Linked DNA regions of Homo sapiens: region 1 is linked to region 2. A link means that fine-mapping ties the variant in region 2 to the expression of a gene that starts in the linked region. Tissue or cell type: prostate. Region 2 holds a variant in brackets; the other region holds the start of a gene. All regions are shown on one strand. Distances are from middle to middle.

Region 1 (5,216 bases), 25 kb before region 2:
ACTCTATGATTCAGCAACAGGAACTGATTCTACAGAAATAGAAGCTCAAGGGCCTGATGATATCTATGTGCAAGAATGACACTCTAGCAATTTTATTAATGGTTAAAAAAATGGAAAATATCTCATAAATCCATCAGTAATGGGAATGATTGAATAGAGCATGGTCAATACAGAATATGGAAGCCTCACAGCACTGAAAAAAAGAAGCTTTATGTACATGACAGGTTGGTAGAGAGTTGAATGATTGTTTAAAAGTTGAAAAATACCTCCTTTTAGATATCTATTTGTATAAACATAGAAAAAAGACTGGAAGGACATGCAGCACATTGTTACCAGCAGTAACTTCAGCAGTGGGGAGAATCTGAGTTTGGAGGGAGGGAAGGTGGGGCTTTCAATTTTTATCTTAAACATTTTTAATAGAGAAGAAAAATCCAATCTGTTAAAGAAATAGACGATCATTTATCCCAGCTGGGAAGGGAGCATTTCTATTTCTGAATATTCAAGGAGGATTGCATCAGCACCAAGATGAATGTTTCCAGATACAGTCATATTTTTAAAAAGCATGCCCAACCAAAATGCAATTAAATAAATATCAGGCCAGGCTTGGTGTCTCACTTATGTAATCCCAACATTTTAGGAGGCCAAGGCCAAGGATTGCTTGAGCCCAGGAGTTTGAGACCAGCCTGGGCAACACAGGGGCACCCCGTCTTTACTAAAATAAAATAAAAAAAATTAGCCGGGCATGGTGGCACATGCCTGTGGTCCCAGCTACTTGGGAGGCTGAGGTGGGAGGATCACTTGGACCTGGGAGGTTGAGGCTGGAGTAAGCCATAATCGCACCATTACACTCCAGCCTGGGCAACAAAGTGAGATCCTGTCTCAAAAAGTAAATAAACAAATATCAAACAACAGAATGGGAAAATCTATGTGACGTGCATAATTGAAAAATATATATAATGGTTGACAGAAAAGTATAGATGCTTCAGATTATTCTTGGAAGGAGGTAGAATCCTATGGACATGCAAAACATATATACAGTTAATATAGTCAAAGCACTTACTGAGACACCAGAGAAGGTCAATGGAAGAGGTAAGTACATCATTTTAAAATGAGAAAATGCAACGCTATCACATGGAAAAGCATATTTTTACCCTCACTGAGAAGAGCTGCATATTAATCCACAAATAAAACTACTACTGAATTCAAGCTACCTATTGAGCACATACTATATATGTCACATAGTGCTTTTTGTAGAGCACCTCACTTAAGGTAGAAGGTATCCTCTTTTAAAAATAAGAAAAGAGAGGTACAGAGGTTAGGTAACTTGCTCAAAGCCACACAGCTGACAAGTGGAGGAGTTGGGATTGAAATCCAGGACTGGTTCCAGAGCCCAAGATCTGATCTATTCTGCTAGCTGATCTCCTAAAATTAAAAGATCAAACCCAATGTTAGTGGAAAAGTGTGCCTTGCTAAAAAACACACACAGAGTACCTGCTTTTTTTTTTTTTTTGAGATGGAGTCTCAAAAACAGACGGGAGAATATTAGTCCAAACTGCAACTGCACCATTTTGTAAGCTCCCTGCTATGGTTTTTTGTTTGTTTGTTTGTTTGTTTGTTTGTTTGTTTGTTTGTCTGAGATGGAGTCACTCTGTCACCGAGGCTGGAGTGCAGTGATGCAATCTCAATTCACTGCAACCTCTGCCTTCTGGATTCAGATGTTTCTCCTGCCTCAGCCTCCCGAGCAGCTGGGATTACAGGTGCCCACCACCACACCTGGCTAAATTTTGTATTTTTAGTAGAGATGGGGTTTCACCATACTGGCCACGAAGGTCTCGATCTCAGCCTCCCAAAGTGCTGGGATTACAGGCATGAGCCACCGCGCCCGGCCGAATACCCGCTTTATTTTTGAGTCATCTATTTGGCATACCTCTAAGCCTCCAAAGTCTGCAGGACCACACAAGAACTTTGTTCTAGTTCTGCCCTCAGACTGAAACTCTTTCTGTAGCAGGGCCTGCTCCAATCGTCCTCAAACCCAAAGACTGAGACTTCTAGGTTCTTGGTTAAAACCTTCATGAGGCCTTTGCGACAGCAGACCTGGACCATCGCCAAGGCAAGACTTCTGGATTCTTGGTTAGAACTTTCAGGAGGCCTTTGTGATGCCAGACCTGGGTCATTGCCCCAGCAACCACAGGGCCTGGGACTGGGGGGTTCCCAGATCCTTGAAGCTCACTCCGCCTCCTCACTCTCACTGCATTTCCCACCTTCCTGTGGGCCTTGCGGCATCTTCATCACTGAGGCACCTGGTTACGCTTCACCTCTTGTTTCCTGCCCTCACTGCATTCCCTCACCTCTACCTTTTTATCCTTCCACCCTAGGCTTCTCTCCTCCCTCTTCCCTCACTCCTGACTCTTCCTCTTCCCAGCGGACGGCTGGAGGACCGCTCAGTCTCTCCTCTCTCACTTCCCTTCCTCTCTCTCACCTTCACCACCCAACACCTCCCTCCCTGCCTCTTTCTTTCTGCTCCCTCATTCTCTCCCCACCACTCTCTTCTCGTGGCCCCCTTGCCCGCGCGCCCTCTTCCCTTCCCCTTGCCTCACTCTCTCAGCTTTCTTCCCACAGTTGAGCTCGGGCAGCTCTTTCTGGGGATAGCTATGGGGCTTTGGGGGAAGAAAGGGACAGTGGCTCCCCATGACCAGAGTCCAAGACGAAGACCTAAAAAAGGGCTTATCAAGAAAAAAATGGTGAAGAGGGAAAAACAGAAGCGCAATATGGAGGAACTGAAGAAGGAAGTGGTCATGGTGAGGCCACCCAAAGTGGGCGCTGACAGCTGCCCTCTGAAAACACTCCTCCACCTATCTTTAACATCTTACCTTGAGAATGAAACACACAGGCCAGAGCCACATCTCTTCTCTGTTAGGCTTTGGAGGGAAGGAGAGGGTTAAAAAAAAAAAAAAAGATACACACAGAGAGACAGGGCAGCTCAACAGCAAGCACAGGTATATTGCAGACACCTGTGGAAGTGGGGGATCAGCTTAATTCCACAGTCCACTGCCACTTACAGGCTGGGTACTTATAGGGATGGATGGGAGGAGTCTGGGCTGTATGGCCTGCTGCCTGGCAGGATATCGATAAGATGTTCTCATGATGAGGTGATTTTTGGCCCTTGTTTCCACAGAATATAATCATGGTATTCCCTGGACCTTTGCCCAGCAGGATGTGATAGGGATGTTTCTTTAGTGGGGTCTTTGTCTTTAATTGGGCCTTCGTCTGCCCTGTGGTCAGGTGGTTAGGCAGGCTGTTTCTCTGGCCCGAACCCCCGTGAAATGTTTCACTTTGACCAAGGCCTGTAAAATAGTGGGGAGCTAGGCCGGGCGTGGTGGCTCACACCTGTAATCCCAGCACTTTGGGAGGCTGAGGCAGGCAGATCACCTGAGGTCAGGAGTTTGAGACAAGCCTGGCCAACATGGTGAAACCCCGCCTCTAAAAATACAAAAATTAGCTGGTCCTGGTGATGGGCCCCTGTAATCCCAGCTGCTTGGGAGGCTGAGGCAGGAGAAACACCTGTTGGGAGGCAGAGGTTGCAGTGAGTCGAAATCGCACCACTGTACACCAGCCTGGGCAACAGAGTGACTCCATCTCAAAAAAAGAATTGCAGGGAGCTTACAAAATGGAGCAGTCTCAGTTTGGACTAACATTCTCCAGTCTGTTTCTCCCCCTCTCCCTGGAAATGACCTGGGCCACCCCCTGTCCCTCAATGCCTCTACTGTCCCCTCAGGATGATCACAAATTAACCTTGGAAGAGCTGAGCACCAAGTACTCCGTGGACCTGACAAAGGTGAGTAAGAAGCTCCCTGAGGAGGCAGAGAGTCTCCAACTCTGACTGTGAGGCTGCCAGGACAAAAGCTGAACTAGGAATCCAGCCCCCTAACTTCAAGTCCAACGTTCCCACCCCTCACCCTCTGCCTGGCCACGTTCCATGGACACTACCTGGAAAAAGCTGCAAATGGTAACTACCCTCAAAGAGAGTGTGGGACTAGATAAGAGAATAAGAATGCTTTAGGGCAGTGCTGGTCAAACGTCTTGTCCTTAGGTCTCCTTTACACTCTTAGAATTTATCTAGGACCGCAAAGAACTTGTGCTTATGTGGCTTAAGTCTGTCTATATTTACCATATTAGAAATTAAAATTGAGAGTTTTAAAATGTATTTCTCAATTCATTTAAAAATAACAAAAATAAAGTTATCATATATTCATATATGTTTTGACAAATAACTGTATTTTTCAAAACAAAAAAATTAGCAGCATCTTACATTTTTGCAAACCTCTTCAATGTCTTGCTTTTTAATAGAAGATAGCTGGATTCTCAAATATTTTCTGGATAAAATCTGTTGTGATGTTATGCCAGTTGGCCTTCAGAAAATTCCACTATATACTCTTAAGAAAATGAGAGTAAAAAAAGGCAAACAATGATTTAGTATTACTATGAAAATTGACCTTGTGGACCCCCTGAAAGGGTTTTGGGGCCCCTCGGGTGTTTCAGGCAGAGGTTGGGGAGTGGCTGGTGGTGATTGGCAGGTTCTACTATCATTTTCATTAACAGGAAAAAGCACATAAGCTTGTGCACAAGAGTGGAATGAGAATCTATGCATTCATGTTTTTTGTTAGTATTCTTTTCTATTTATGTTTTTTAAAAATTTATGGGCCAGGTGCCGTGGCTCACACCTGTAATCCAAGGCAGGCAGATCACTTGAGGTCAGTAGTTGGAGACCAGCCTGGCCAACATGGTGAAACCCCATCTGTATTAAAAATACAAAAATTATCCTGGCATAGTGGCACACATCTGCAATCTCAGCTACTTGGGAGGCTGAGGCAGGAGAATCACTTGAATGCAGGAGAATCACTTGAACCTGGGAGATGGAGGTTGCAGTAAGCCGAGATCATGCCACTGCACTCCAGCCTAGGTGACAGAGCAAGACTCTGTCTCAAAAAAAAAAATGGATATGTAGATGTACATATTTATGGTATACATGTATTATTCTGATATAAGCATACAATGTGTAATGATCAAATCAGGGTATTTAGGATACCCATAACCTCAAACATTTATCATTTCTTTGCATGGGAACATTCCAAATCCACTCCTCTAATTATTTTGATATCCATAATAAATTATTAACTATAGTTGCCCTATTGTGCTACCAAACACTAGATCTTATT
Region 2 (5,205 bases):
TCAGGGAGCCGTTGTGGCCGTGACAGGTGACGGGGTGAACGACTCCCCTGCGCTGAAGAAGGCTGACATTGGCATTGCCATGGGCATCTCTGGCTCTGACGTCTCTAAGCAGGCAGCCGACATGATCCTGCTGGATGACAACTTTGCCTCCATCGTCACGGGGGTGGAGGAGGGTGAGGAGGCAGGGTGCCCATGGTGGAGACTTCAACCCTGGACTCAGGTGGGGGTTGGTGTACATCCCCTCTTTCCGTTTTCCCATCATCCAACCTCCATGAGCCTGTACGGGCTCAGAAGAAAATCACTGTAAGACAAAATTTTGCAAATTAGATCAGCTGGTACATAGACCATCACTATCTGCAACCCCTTTTGATGAGATCGGAGAAAAGTCCCTTTTATTCATTTTGTTTTCCTATCAGGGAGACTGAGACTCTGGTATACATAATATCGTCATTGTCCTCTCACTGGACTTCAAGTAGGCCCACAGCCAGTTCCAAGATGTAGCCACACCCCTGGGACTATTCCATGCGCTGCAATCTTTAGGAGGGTCCCCTAGGAACCTGTTGCCTAAATAATGGTGACACATCAGGATCAGCTGGAGCTTGACCCGTGAATTGACTGCATGAGCCCAATTACACACCCTCTTCCCCAGAGAACTGTGAAGAGAATGCCCTCCTGCGAACAGGAGAGATCCAGAATTCTGCATTCCAGGTTCCCTGCTTTCTGCCTGGAGCTATCTTACTAAAACATATGGCAATCCACATCATAATCATGATTACCATTTCATTGAAACCTTGTATAATCCTGACACTTTGCTTGGTATTTTATATCCACTCAATTCAATAAGTTCGTTTGAACACTGACTATGTGGGAGGCACTATGCTTGATGCTGGGGATACAACAGTAGGGAGAACAAAGACACAAATCCCTGCCCTCGTGTAACTTAATTTCTAGTGGGGATGACAAACAATAAAATAATTAAATTATATAGTATGTTAAAAGAAGATAAGTGCCATGGGACAGACCAAGCAGAGAGTGCAGAGAGGGATTCGATCTTTGAAAAGGCAGTCAGAGACGGATGCAGCAATCTTGCAAGGCAGGAGGAATGAAGCTCACGGAGGTGAGGGTGCCCAAGGTCACAGCTAGCTATGGCAGAAGATGGGATTTGAACACAAGCCTGTCCCAAGCCCTGGCTGTTTCCATTCCAGCCTTAATCTTGTAAAGGCTTTTATACTGACATTCTCAAACATCGCAGGATTAACCAGGCCCAACCCTGCTAATTTTCAGAGATCAGATAACGTTAGCTAGGGTGAATCTAAGAACAAACAGTACACAGACGGCATGGCTCTGATTAAAAGGCACACAATTTAGAAACAATACTGGGACCCTGGAGGTCTAGGACCTCCAGACCCTTTCCTGGACTGTGACACTTCTTTGAGGTGGCCTGTCTGTCCCGGAGCTGGTTTGAGGGAGGCGTGTTCTCCCAGGGCTTCTCACAGGAGGTTGACCTTCCTCCCCAGGCCGCCTGATCTTTGACAACCTGAAGAAATCCATCATGTACACCCTGACCAGCAACATCCCCGAGATCACGCCCTTCCTGATGTTCATCATCCTCGGTATACCCCTGCCTCTGGGAACCATAACCATCCTCTGCATTGATCTCGGCACTGACATGGTAAGGGCCAAGCTGGTGAGCAAGAGATTCCCAGAATTCTGCCTCCTAAGCTCCCTGCTTTCTGCCTGGAGCTATCTTACTAAAACTCATGACAACCCACTTATGATCCAGCTCTCGCACCTCCTGCAAGATGGATTGAGGCTGCGTCAAGACAGAATGGTAGAGCTTGAATTACTGCTGGGTTTCCTTCTGAACTTTGTGACCCCTGTCATCCCCACCCTCCATCCTCCAGGTCCCTGCCATCTCCTTGGCTTATGAGTCAGCTGAAAGCGACATCATGAAGAGGCTTCCAAGGAACCCAAAGACGGATAATCTGGTGAACCACCGTCTCATTGGCATGGCCTATGGACAGATTGGTGCGCCCAGAGGAATGAGGGGTGGAGGGAGCAGGGAGTGGTTTCCCCTGCCTGGCAACGTGAGCCATCTCAGTTTGGAAGTCAGGGAGATATTTTCTCAG[C/G]AACAAACTGTGCTAGGCCCTGAAAACACAAAGAACCACTCATCTCTGATCTGTCCTTGACTTAGAGTCCAGTACAAAAGGAACAAACATACATAAAATGATAGCATCTCCAAGTGCCAAGTAATGAGTATAGACAGAACATACTACAGGATTACAAAGCAAGCAGGCTCACCATTATGAGGATAGCCAGAGAGGCCTTATGCAGGAAATAGGACTTAAACTTGGTGTGGGAGAGTGGGGCTTAGACTAGTAAGTGTATGGTCAGGTGTGGGAGACCAAAGGAGTGGGGAATTTCAGATGGCACAGTTAAAGAAGACTGAATAAACCAGGTTGGTAGAGCCCTTAGTCTTTATAAAGTAGTGAAAAATAAGACTGTAGACAGAGATATCATTTGTGTTGGGGTCAGCCTTGACAGACATTTGAGAGTCATTAGAAGTCTTTGTTCTTGATTTTCCAGGTGCAATGGTATTTCAGAAAATAGGGTGAGTGATGAACAGAGTAAGATCCTGTCTCAAAAGAAAAAATTGGGAGAGGGAATCAGTGGCCTCTAAAGTCCTTTTTAGTTTTAAGACCATGTGATTCAAAGCTGACTCTGGGTCAGAGTTTAGAAACAAATGTCAGGGCTTGAAGGAAAGTCCCACAGAGATGAGAGATAACAGGCTTAGGCAGCTGATGGCAAGATTCTTCCGCATTACTCTTCAGACACACACCAGCCCAGCCAGAAGCAAGTCCCAGCCCCCAGCCCTCCCCTGGCCTACCTTTTGGGGCCCTTCTCTGAACCAGGCTCCCCTGTCCTGCAACTCTGTCATTCACAGGGATGATCCAGGCTCTGGCTGGATTCTTTACCTACTTTGTAATCCTGGCTGAGAATGGTTTTAGGCCTGTTGATCTGCTGGGCATCCGCCTCCACTGGGAAGATAAATACTTGAATGACCTGGAGGACAGCTACGGACAGCAGTGGGTGAGTAGAAGGGATAAGGTAGGAGCTGAGACCAGTAAGAGTGAGAGTGACAGGGGAGAGTGAGTGCAGCAAATTTTTTAAGAGAGAAGAAGGGAAGCACCACACAAACAGAGCTGATGCCTTTTCTTCAGTCCTGTATGAGCCTTCTCACACTTGCCCTCAGTCTTCAGCCACAACAGCAAATCCTCTTCTGTTTAGCATAGGCTCATTCTGGTTGGCTCCTCCTGTCTGTTGTCTGGCCCTGCCTGTCTGAGTCCTTTGGCTCCTTGGAGTCTTTGTCATATCAACTTTTCTGAGCCGGTTTCTCTTTTCCCAGGTTTCAACCATGATTGCCCCAGAAATAAATGCTGGGTCCTCTCCTCTTATACTCTCCCTCCATGAGAGTTCAAATGATATGATTTAAAATTTGAGGCAGGGTGCAGTGGCTCACGCCTGTAATCCCAGCACTTTGGGAGGCCGAAGTGGGCGGATCACTTGAGGTTGGGAGTTGAGACCATCCTGGCCAACATGGAGATACCCCGTCTCTACTAAAAATACAAAATTAGCCGGGCGTGGTGGCGCATGCCTGTAATCCCAACCACTCGGGAGGCTGAGTCAGGAGAATCACTTGAACCCGGGGGGCAAAGTTTGCAGTGAGCCAAGATCACGCCATTGCACTGCAGCCTGGGCAACAAGAGTAAAACTCTGTCTCAAAAAATAAATAAATAAATAAATATAAAATTTGAAAACCAGCTGGGCACAGTGACTCACGCCTGTAATCCCAGCACTTTGGGAGGCTGAGGCAGGCAGATTACAAGGTCAAGAGATCAAGACCATCCTGGCCAACATGGTGAAACCCCATCTCTACTAAAAATACAAAAATAAGCTGGGTATGGTCGTGGGTGCCTGTAATCCCAGCTACTCAGGAGGCTGAGGCAGGAGAATCACTTGATCCCAGGAGGCGGAGATTGCAGTGAGCCAAGATTGCACCACTGTACTCCAGCCTGGCAACAGAGCGAGACTCCGTCTCAAAGAAAAAAAAAAACAAAACCCTGAAAACCTATTTTCTTTGTATATCCCTTCCTAATCATTCTAAACCTTTTTAACCTAGAGGATACCTCTCTATAGTTGTCTTTTCTAACAACCAAGATGAATGAGGCTCAAACTGAAGCCCTCTCCCCAACAATATGTGTTTAAGAATTTTAGTAGGTATGCTTTTTTGGTATCTGTGATACTCCTGTCCCAATTTCTAAGACAATGGGTCATGTGACATGTGACAGCAATTATTGCTAGAATTGTAGCGTCATAGAGGACACAGTAAATTTTCATCATTCTGTAGATGAGGAACCTGATCTAGGAAGATTCTGTAACTTGCTTAAAGTCCCACAGTGAATCCCTAAAAGAGCTGGACTTGAATTCTGGACTCTAGATCCCTGCCCAGCACTTTCCCACTTCACCACGATGTCTCCAAACCAAGCCAATTGCAGGTTTCTCAAATTGTGTTCAAATCTGAATTGTTGGGAAGGTGCCCCTCACATACAGTTGGCTTCCATTAGCTGAGGCTGTAAGGCCATCAGATGTCAATATTCCCAGCTATTAACACTGCTGCAGGATCCAGTGACACCCAAAGTTCTCATTGCTGTGTACCCTGCCAACATCTCAACTCCCAGCTCAAGCCCTTGTTTTCCATCTTGATACTTCCTCCCTGCTGCCAAGATGCAGCATAACATAAATTTACTGACAATAAATTAAAGGTAATTAAAAGTAATTTGAGGTAAAAAGTTAAGAATTCCCCCCTGCACATTGAAGACATCTTGAAGTGTCACAAAAATGTGTTGAGAACAGTTGCCCTGAGCAACAAACTCTACAAAGGCGTGTCCGTGTCTCTTCTATGACTGTAATTTTCAGATAATCTGGTATAGAGCCACCCACCCGGGAAGTGCATGATGCACTGCTAGAAGCAAGGATCGCTCCTTACTTTCTAAATATCTTTCATTAATTCCAGTGATTCCCTCACTCATTTGTTCATTCAGACAATATTTACTGAGCATCTTCTATGTACCAGGTACTGTTCTAGGGCCTGGGGATATGATAGTGAACAAAAATCATCAAGTTATTGCTCTCATGGAGCTTATT

What was found. PIP is the estimated chance that this variant, and not a neighbour inherited with it, causes the effect.
Region 1: it holds the start of ATP1A4, and the variant in region 2 is the best candidate, but not a certain one, in a credible set for the expression of ATP1A4 in prostate (GTEx, PIP 0.80).

What each region holds. Positions count from the first base shown.
Region 1 is chr1:160,149,390-160,154,605 of GRCh38, forward strand. It overlaps ATP1A4 (ATPase Na+/K+ transporting subunit alpha 4), which reads left to right and starts at 2,214. Exons shown (of 22, transcript NM_144699.4): 1 at 2,214-2,798; 2 at 3,776-3,835. The coding sequence starts at 2,652.
Region 2 is chr1:160,174,575-160,179,779 of GRCh38, forward strand. ATP1A4 (ATPase Na+/K+ transporting subunit alpha 4) reads left to right here. Exons shown (of 22, transcript NM_144699.4): 15 at 5-173; 16 at 1,518-1,672; 17 at 1,905-2,028; 18 at 2,945-3,090. Among named protein-coding and RNA genes, the nearest start is that of CASQ1, 13 kb to the right of the region's middle. RefSeq lists an enhancer at 1-512. The variant C/G (reference allele first, on the strand shown) is at 2,130.